Linked DNA regions of Homo sapiens: region 2 is linked to region 1. Evidence: fine-mapped expression QTL. Tissue or cell type: whole blood. Region 1 holds a variant in brackets; the other region holds the start of a gene. All regions are shown on one strand. Distances are from middle to middle.

Region 1 (5,203 bases):
TGGTGGAGAACAAAAAGTCTCAGCTGGTGATCACTGCACACGACATGGATCCCATCGAGCTGTTGTCTTCCTGCCTGCCCTGTGTCGTAAAATGGGGGTCCCTTACTGCACTATCAAGGGGAAGGCAAGACTGGGACGTCTAGTCTACAGGAAGACCTGCACCACTGTTGCCTTCGCATGGGTTAACTCGGAAGACAAAGGAGCTTTGGCTAAGCTGGTGGAAGCTATCAGGACCAATTACAAAGACAGACACGACGAGATCTGCTGTCACTGGGGAGGCAATGTCCTGGCTTCCAAGTCTATGGCCCGCATTACCAATCTCAAAAAGGCAAAGGCTAAAGAACTTGCCACCAAGCTGGATTAAATGTACACTGTTGAGTTTTCAGTATATAAAAATAATTAAAATAATACAGATTTTCCTTCCAAAAAAAAAAAGATGTAAACAAATATACTGCTGTAAAAAGCACAATGAGAAGGCACCCATGAGAACAGCCACGGAAAGAACACTGGCACTCTAGAGAACAGAAAGAGAAAAGGCACAAGACAGCAAGGACAGGTGTGTTCCAGGAATGTGACAAGGCCAGGTGGCTGGCAAATCACAATCAAGGGGACAGTGGCTCGACAGGGTCCACCTTTCTGAATGCATCTCCTAGCACTGGCCCTCACTCTAAGGCCAGCCTTGCTCCACTTGAACAAGTGAAGCACTCTCTTGCCTCAGGCCCTTTGCATGGCCTCAAACACTCTTCCCCTGTGTCTTCTCATTGTTCACCCTCATTCAGATCTCTGCTCAATAGCCCCATATCAGTGACCATCCCTCTAAAATAGCCCCTTTACAGGCCAGGCACAGCGCCTCATGCCTGTAATCCCAGCACTGTTGGGAGGCCAAGGCAGAAGGATCACCTGAGGTCCAGGAGTTCAAGACCAGCCTAGCCAACATGGTGAAACTCCATCTCTACTAAAAATACAAAAATTAGCCAGGCATGGTGGTGCGTGCCTGTAATCCCAGCTACCTGGGAGGCTGAGGCAGGAGAATAACTGGAACCCGGGATGCAAATGCTGCAGTGAGCCGAGATCGTGCCACTGCACTCCAGTCTGGGTGAGAGAGTGAGACTCCATCTCAAAAAAATAAAATAAAATAGGCCATTTAGCCCCACTCTGTCTTCTAACTTTACTGCACCTTTTTCCCTTAATCATTTGTCTACTTACTGTCTTGTATATAAACAGATACATTATCCGTCTCTAGAATGTAAGTGCCCTAAGAGCAGGAACTTCATTTGCTCATTGATGGAGCTGAGTACCCAGAAAAGCACCTGGAATGGAATAGGCTTTTAATACGTATTTGTGGAATGCATAAATGCATTACAAGTGTAAGAGCAAGCCAGAAAGAACAGAAGATACATAGAACAGTAAAATTGCCACATCTTCTCTGGGTTCATGAGTCATCACAAATGGGTTATGTCAGATTACTTGAGGATATGAAAGAAAATAGATAACTTCAAAAGCAATGCCTTTCAATATAGAAAAAAAAACACCAGGCCAGGTGTGGTGGTGCACGCCTATAATCCCAGCACTTTGGGAGGTTGAGGGGGGTAGATCACTTGAGCCCAGGAGTTCGAGACCAGCCTGGAAAACACAGTGAGACCTTGTCTCTAAAAAAATTTTTTTTTAATTAGCTGGGCATGGTGGTGCATGCCTGTAGTCCCAGCTACTAGGGAGGCTGAGGTGGGAGGATTGCCTGAGCTCAGGAGGTCAAGGCTGCAGTGACCCATGATGACACCACTGCACTCCAGCCTGGGTGACAGGGAGACCCTGTCTCAAAAAAAAAAAAAAAAAAAAAACAGGAAGAAAAGAAAAAGAGGTCGGGCACGGTGGCTCACACCTGTAATCCCAGCACTTTGGGAGGCCGAGGCAGGATCACTTGAGGTCCGGAGTTCGAGACCAGCCTGGCAACATGGTGAAACCCCATCTCTACTAAAAATATAAAAATTAGCCAGGTGTGGTAGCGGGAGCCTATAGTCCCAGCTACTCCGGAGGGTGAAGCATGAGAATCTCTTCAGTCTGGGAGGCACAGGTTGCAGTGAGCCAAGATCATGCCACTGCACTCCAGCCTGGGCAACAGAGCGAGACTCCATCTCAAAAAAAAAAAAAAAAAAAGAAAAGAAAAGAAAAAAGAAAAGAAAAAACACTCTGCTAAACCTGTAAATAATTTTTAATTGTACCC[C/T]AACAAAAGCTGAAAATGGCAAAATAGATGCCAAGAGCAAAGGATTAACTGTGCTTATCATACAGCAAATCCCTCTCCTGTAAATTAAACAAATAGATTATAACAAGGCAAGAGATATTCAAGACTTAGAGAATGAATCCAAGAAACCCATTTGTGCTAAACAAAGGTACCAGGGTAATCAGGAAAGATCAGCAATGTGGAAACTAGGCTGGAATGCAATGGGGTGATCTTGGCTGATTGCAACCTCCACCTCCTGGGTTCAAGCGATTCTCCTGCCTCAGCCTCCTGAGTAGCTGGGACTACAGGCACCCACCACTACACCCAGCTGATTTTTGTATTTTTAGTAGAGAAGGGATTTCGCCATGTTGGCCAGGCTGGTCTGGAATTCCTGATCTCAAGTGATCCACCGGCCTCGGCCTCCCAAAGTGCTGGGATTACAGGCATAAGCCACTGCATCCGACCGGAAAAAGTAACTTTTCTAAAATTAAAATTAAAATTTTCTCAATGAAATCCTAGTATCATTATTAGGCTGCATAGGAATTTTCTCAGGAACACTCTTAAAAACAAGAACAAAAGAAAACAACAGAAACCAAGGCTCTAAACATTCATACATCCATTTCTTAAGTTTTCAAACAAAAACTTAGAAAGAAAACCCAGAAAACATATCCAAATAAAAGTGATTTGACCTCAGAGCTAAGAGAAAGGTTACTAGTCCCACAGGTACAGTGTACCAAGCTCACATTTCTGAAAGGTGAATGGAGACGATTTTCAGAACTAGAAAGGTGAAATAATCCGTAAAGATTAGTGACTACAAGCCAGGCACGATGGCTCACACCTGTAGTTCCAGCATTTTGGGAGGCTGAGGCAGGTGAATTGCTAGAGCTCAGGAGTTTGAGACCAGCCTGGGCAACATGGCAAAATGCAAAATGTCATCTCTACCAAAAATACAAAAATTAGGTGGGTATGGTGGCACGCCAGTGGTCACAGCTACTTTGGAGGCTAAGGTGGGAGGATCACTTGAGCACAAGAAGCTGAGATCACGTCACTGCACTCCAGCCTGAGCAACAGAGTGAGACTCTGCCAAGAAAAAAAAAAAAGAAAGACTAGTGAGTACAAATTTCATGTTGTAGAAATGTAAAAATAGAGAGAAAGAACAGAAAAAAATCAATAAACACTAGTGACAGCTTTGATCACAATCAGAATAAAATAGGCAGCTTAAAGTATGTGAAAGCAGACAGATAAGTAGATTAACTCAATAAAAAGCAAAACCAGTAATAGCAAGTTATCAATCAGTAAACAGAGTGTAAAAACTATAAAACGTGTAGAATTTCAAAAAGAAGGTTAGACTACTAAACCACAATTTGGAGGAGAAAGAGGATTAGAATGAACCAAATTTATCTTTCCTGGAAGGAAGATCGAGGTTTAGGTAAGTGAAATAAATTAAAAGTAGAAATATTGAAAAGCAGACATAAAAGTCAAAATAACCACCCAATTTACATTCTTAAAGCAGCCCTAAGACATTCACTCAAAGAAACATTGTGAATTAAAAGAAGCAAAGACTGGCAATAAAGTGATAAGGAAATTGACGATGCTCCAATTATCTTCATTCTTGCATTGACTAAACACATATTTATTGGGCACCTCTGTACCCCAGGCACCGTTCTAGGCCCTGGGGATGTAATGATCAGATGCAAGACAAAGTTCCTGCTCTCATGGTCCTTTCTGGGGAAAGCAACACCACACAAACAGACATAAGATCAGGATGAAGTGTAAGCAGATGAGAGTTTCCATTTTAGACAGGGTGGTCAGAAGAGGCTTCTTTGAAGAAGGAAGTTTTGAGCAGATTACTGAAGGGCCAAAGTAAGCCATGAGAAGCTGGAGGCAAAGAGACCAGCAAATAAGGTCCCAAGGCAGAAAATACCTTTTTTTTTTTTTTTTTTTTTTTTTTGAGACGGAGTCCCACTCTGTTCTGTTACCCAGGCTGGAGTGCAGTGGTGCAATCTCAGCTCGCTGCAACCTCTGCCTTCTGGGTTCAAGCAATTCTCCTGCCTCAGCCTCCCGAGTAGCTGGGACTACAGGTGCATGACACCACGCCTGGCTAATTTTTTGTGGTTTTGGTAGAGACGGGATTTCACCATGTTGGCCAGGCTGGTCTCGAACTCCTGACCTCAGGTGATCTACCCATCTCGGCCTCCCAAAGTGCTAGAATTACAGTGCCCAGCCAGAAAATATCTTTTATAAAAACCACAAGAAGATACCTCAATGAAACTTAAAAAAATTCATTATGTATGCAGATATGGGGGATCTTTTGGGGTGATATGTTCTCCAACTGGATTGTGATGATATTTGCACAACTTTACAAGTTTATTTAAAAATCTTTGAATTGTGGATTTAAAACAAGTGGATCTTATGGTATGTAAATTATGCCTCCATGAAACTACTTAAAGCACTTTTTTGGGCTGGGTGCCGTGGCTCATGCCTGTAATCCCAGCACTTTGGGAGGCTGAGGCAGGAGGATTGCTTGAGCTCAGGAGTTCAAGATCAGCCTGGGCAACATAGTGAGACCTCGTCTGTACAAAAAAATAAAAAATTGGCCGGGTGCGGTGGCTCACGCCTGAAATCCCAGCACTTTGGGAGGCTGAGGTGGGTGGATCACCTGAGGTCAGGAGTTTGAGACCAGCCTGACCAATATGGTGAAACCACATCTCTATTAAAAATACAAAAATTAGCCGGGCCTGGTGGCCAGTGCCTGTAGTCCCAGCTACACCAGAGGCTGAGACAGGAGAATTGCTTGAACCTGGAAGGCAGAGGTTGCAATGAGCCAAGATCGTGCCACTGCACTCCAGCCTGGGCGACAGAGCGAGACTCCATCTCAAAAAAAAAAAAAAATTCAAAAATTAGCCAAGCGTGGTGGCATGCGCCTATGGTCCCAGCTACTTCAGAGACTGAGGCTGAAGAATTGATTGAGCCTGGGAGGTTGAG
Region 2 (5,116 bases), 110 kb after region 1:
GAACACATTTTGCAGGCAGCTCATGCGTTTTTCTCCTTTTCTGTCATGACTTGCCCTGTGGTGGCTCTACTGATGGTCAGTGTGGGAGGCAGGGAAGGAACATTTCAAACCAGTAAGTCTGATCATAGCAATTCCTACTTTCTTGAGAACTATGTGCCAAGCATTGAGCTAAGTATTTCATGCTCATCGTCTCATTTAATCCTCACTCACGAGGAAGATGTATGGTGTCACTGCACCTGTAAGATGTGCTTGCAAAAACAGAGTTAGGGAGGTTGAGAAATTTGCTCAAGATTACACAACTGAGGCAGGAGAATGGGGAACATGAGGCGTGAGAGAGCAAAGGGAATAAAAATCACTGGGAACCGGTAACCCCCCTCACCCCCGAGAGTGGCCAGGGAGAGAGAGGCTGCCTGAGGGAAGGAAGCTCGGCAGGACCCGCTGCAGACCCAGGGCCAAGGGAAGTCCCGCGGGAGGAAACGCGGGCGCGGTGGGGCTGGCTCCAGGCACGCGGGCCAAGGGCGGGAGGGTCGGACACGAAGCCACAAGGCTCCTTTCCTTCCTCCTCCTTCCCGTCTGCCTTCTTCTGCTTCTGCGGCCTGATCTCCGAGTCCCTCTGCCTGCAGGCGGCGGCAGAACGTCCGCATCTGTCCGCATCTCAGCGCTGTCCCCCAACCGAGTCGCGCCGCGTTTTCCTCTTCTGTCGGGAGAGCTCGTGCTGGGAACCGCGGGGCAGGAGGACGGCCCAAGCTACTCTCGATGTCCTTCCCCAGCCCACGCCTGCCCCAGCCACAGTTCCCCTGGTTTTCCTGAGGTTCTCCAGCTGCTCAATGATGGGCAGGTTCATCTACAGCCTGGAGCAGCCGCCTCCTCCTCCTCCTCCTCCTCCTCCTCCTCCTCCAGAAACACCCCTTTTTCCTTCTCCTCATTCTTCCTTCTCATTCTTTCTCCTCCTCACTCTTCCTTCTCCTCATTCTTCCGTCTCATTCTTTCTCCTCCTCATTCTTCCTTCTCCTCTTCCTCTTCCCCTTCTCTTTCTGTTCTTTTCTTCTTCCTCCTCCTCCTCCTTTTCTCTTTATTTTTCTCCTCCTCCTCCTCTTCTCCCTCTTCTTTCTCCTTATACTCCTCCTCTCCTCTTACTGTACTTTTTTTTCCTTCTGCTTTCTCTGCCCTCCTCTTCCTCTTCTTCTTCTTCTTCTTCTTTTTTTTTTTTTTTTTGTGGCTGGAGTGCAGTGGCGCAATCTCGGCTCACTGCAACCTCTACTTCCCAGGTTCAAGCGATTCTCCTGCCTCAGCCTCAGTAGCTGGGATTAAAGGGGTCCACCGCCACCATTCCCTGCTAATTTTTGTAATTTTAGTAGAGACAGGTTTTTGCCATGTTGGACAGTCTAGTGTCAAACTCCTGACCTCAGATGATCCATCCACCTCGGCCTCCCAAGTGTTGGGATTACAGGCATGAGTCACCGCGCCTGGTCTCTTTCTCCTTTTTTTTTTTTTAAAGAAAAATTGAAATCATGGTTTTCTAAAAATCCCTCCTAGCTCTCAGCTTCACCGAACCACGTCCTGGTCATTGACTTGCCGTGTGACTGCTGTGCTTCCCCTGTTTCCATTTCCCTCCATTTCTCCCTCCTTCCTCCCTCTGTCACCCATGCCCGGAGGAGCACGATAAGGGACCAGGCCGACCTGGGTTCCAACCCTGCCTGCTCCCTGTCCTGTTGACGCTCTAATTCCACTTGCAGCCCCACTTTCCTCATTTGCATAGTGTTCTCCCAGTAACAACAGCAGTCATACCAAGTTCTAGGGTTCTTTCGAGGATAGTGTGTATTCACCGCAGTGCATCTCTGATGCCTGGCACATCGGCTGTGCTCAAGTAATGGCAGCTATTGCATTACAGTGACTATGGAGTTAGGGGACCGCATATGGCAAAATGCTGATCACTGTTTTGAATTTGGTTTCATTCCTCTAATCTCAAATCCAGTGTTTTAAGGACATGCTAAATGCTTTGTCCTGGAGAGCTATCTTAAGGGACAAAATCGTTTTCCCAGCGTCATCTGTGACACATCCTGACAGTAGAGAGCTGCTTCCAAGAAGCAATTTGAAGTGCCATTATCAGGCAGGGACGGGGGCTCTAGGGGATTTCGGGGTCAGCAGATATGAAATGAATGATTTCATAGGGCTGTCACAGAGCTGTGGTGGGAATTTCCCATGAGACCCCGCCCCTGGCTGAGTCACCGCACTCCTGTGTTTGACCTGAAGTCCTCTCGAGCTGCAGAAGCCTGAAGACCAAGGAGTGGAAAGTTCTCCGGCAGCCCTGAGATCTCAAGGTCTGTCCATCTGGGGGAGTGGGTGGGGGCACTGAGAAGGGGTGAGATTGGAACTTTTGCTCCCTTTGCCCATTTCTAGACTTTTTCTCCTAATATGTAATAACTTCTCTTCAATAGCCCTTTAAATAAACATCAATAACTTAGCCTGAAGAGTTTTTCACTCCTTAGTTTTGTTACCATACAAACTTCACATCTCAAAACATGTCTCTGTTTAAGAAAATGTGTTAGTGAGTTGAACAGGGAGGTCTTTCCACATGTTAGTAGTTAGGTGTTCAGCTAAAGGGGGAAGAGTGATTATGTGATAGCTTCTTCTTGAACTGAATTGTCTGATGCCCCTGACAGATTCTCTTTGTAAGGAGTTTATTTCAGGGGCAATAAGTAATTGGCATTATTGCTGGTTGGTACTGCAAAGTACCTATGAAAGTCCCCAAAAGTTCTTGCTATTGTTATTTCTGCATTTTGGCAGAACATGATGGAAAATGCACCCTCAAACTTTGGCAAACCGGCACAAAGCTGTGTGTTTAATCACGCCTGCCTTGTCCTAGTGGTTTCTATGAATCTGCTACTTTTCCGTAATATTGCATCATTAATTGTTCCTGAAAAACCCTGAGTTATCCTCTTATAGAATTGTATAAGTAATGATTGCAATATAGATAATTTTGAAAGGAGAAACCACCTTTCCTTGGAAATGTTTATCTTTTGCAGAGTGACATTTGTGAGACCAGCTAATTTGATTAAAATTCTCTTGGAATCAGCTTTGCTAGTATCATACCTGTGCCAGATTTCATCATGGGAAACAGCTGTTACAACATAGTAGCCACTCTGTTGCTGGTCCTCAACTTTGAGAGGACAAGATCATTGCAGGATCCTTGTAGTAACTGCCCAGCTGGTGAGTACCCAGTTATCATGTGCATTTGATCTGCTCTGTTGGAAGTATGGTTCAGTTAGTCTAGTAGTCAGGGCTAACGAGCTCCCTTTTAAGGAAAGGAAAATGAAAATTCATTCATTTACAAATGTTTATTGGATGCTACAACCTAGCTGTGTGAACACAGCAAAGTCATTCAACCTCTTGTGCCTTGACTTTCTCATCTGGGGATAATAAGAGAACCTGTTTTATAGGATGGCTGGGAGGATCAAATGAAGGGCTTAGAACAGTGCATGGCACAAGGCAAGACTTCAATAAATGTTAGTTTTGTGTGTAGGGCTTTGTGCTCCGACTGGGGGCATAGCAGCGAGTAAGCGCGTAGTAAAGGGCTTAACAGAGTGGGGACGGTCAGTCGCATTTAAATTTTAGTGTAGGACATTGATGTCCTCCTGGATCCAGTCATATTCATCTCCTACATCAATCAAGATAATCATTTTGTTTTATTCAATAGATAAAGTATTTTCTTTCTGTTGATTTATTTGTTACAATATCTGGTTTTTTTGTTTTTTTTGTGTGTGTATGTTTTTTTTTTTTTTTTTGAGACACAGTCTCACTCTGTCGCCCAGGCTGGAGTGCAGTGGCACGATCTCAGCTCACTGCAACCTTGGCCTCCCAGGTTCAAGCAATTCTCCTGCCTCAGCCTCCCGAGTAGCTGGGATTACAGGTGTGCACCACTGCGCCTGGCTAATTTTTGTATTTTTAGTAGAGACAGGATTTCACCATGTTGGCCAAGCTGGTCTTGAACTGCTGACCTCAGGTGATCTGCCCGCTTCGGCCTCCCAAAGTGCTGTGATTACAGGCGTGAGCCACTGCACCTGGCCTGTATTTTGTTATTTCTAATTCTGTGATTACACAAAGAATAATCTTGCAAATGTATTGTTTTAGGAAGTCAATCAAACTAATGTCCACCACTGTGGCATCTAGAAAACTCATCATTCTTTTATAATCTTATTTTATTGTAAACTTCGGAATGCCTTGGGTGACGATTGCCCATTGTCAAACGTGTACCACTATTGTCTGCCTTTCTTAGGTACATTCTGTGATAATAACAGGAATCAGATTTGCAGTCCCTGTCCTCCAAATAGTTTCTCCAGCGCAGGTGGACAAAGGACCTGTGACATATGCAGGCAGTGTAAAGGTATGAGTTCAAAGATATTTTCTTCTTCTAGAAGATAGTTGGGAAGATAAGCTTTTCTTTCCCATTTACTAACTGCTCTCTTTTGAAAATCTCAAGTGTCAAAGACTGATTCTTCTGCCAACCAGCAGGTCTAGGACAATAATATCCAGTGACAGCAATTATTTGTGGACTGAGCTTTCTAAATATTAGAGGAAACATTCATTTGACAAGAGAGAAGTTTTTACTTACCTAAATGTAAAAATGTCTTTATGGAGATTTAAAAGTAAACTTTAAAATTACTGGGAACACTATAAGTAGAGTGAGCATGATTTTTACTGCAGAGCATAAATTCGCTTCCTGGATTTGGAGGTCAAGTGTAATAAAATGTTGGGGGCTGGGGGGACTTTGTAGGTGTTTTCAGGACCAGGAAGGAGTGTTCCTCCACCAGCAATGCAGAGTGTGACTGCACTCCAGGGTTTCACTGCCTGGGGGCAGGATGCAGCATGTGTGAACAGGATTGTAAACAAGGTCAAGAACTGACAAAAAAAGGTACGTTTGCGTTTCTTTGATCTAGTGTAGTTTTGTGACATAGACAAACTTAGCTTTGATCTTGATCCTTTGAAAATAAACAAACAGATTTGTAGAACCTTAAAGTAACAAGGGAGTATATGATATATCATATTTTAATTAATAAAATATTTCAATTAATAAAATATTTCCGTTATTTCTTCATAAATGGAAATAATTTGAAAT

The links. PIP is the estimated chance that this variant, and not a neighbour inherited with it, causes the effect.
Region 2: TNFRSF9 starts here. The variant in region 1 is fine-mapped to the expression of TNFRSF9 in whole blood (TOPMed, PIP above 0.99).

Annotation. Positions count from the first base shown.
Region 1 is chr1:8,052,401-8,057,603 of GRCh38, reverse strand. The region is part of intron 2 of ERRFI1-DT (ERRFI1 divergent transcript); the gene reads right to left. It also overlaps the pseudogene RPL7AP18. Among named protein-coding and RNA genes, the nearest start is that of ERRFI1-DT, 29 kb to the right of the region's middle. The variant C/T (reference allele first, on the strand shown) is at 2,222.
Region 2 is chr1:7,937,989-7,943,104 of GRCh38, reverse strand. It overlaps TNFRSF9 (TNF receptor superfamily member 9), which reads left to right and starts at 2,266. Exons shown (of 8, transcript NM_001561.6): 1 at 2,266-2,321; 2 at 3,027-3,210; 3 at 4,277-4,384; 4 at 4,775-4,912. The coding sequence starts at 3,111. RefSeq lists a silencer at 423-562.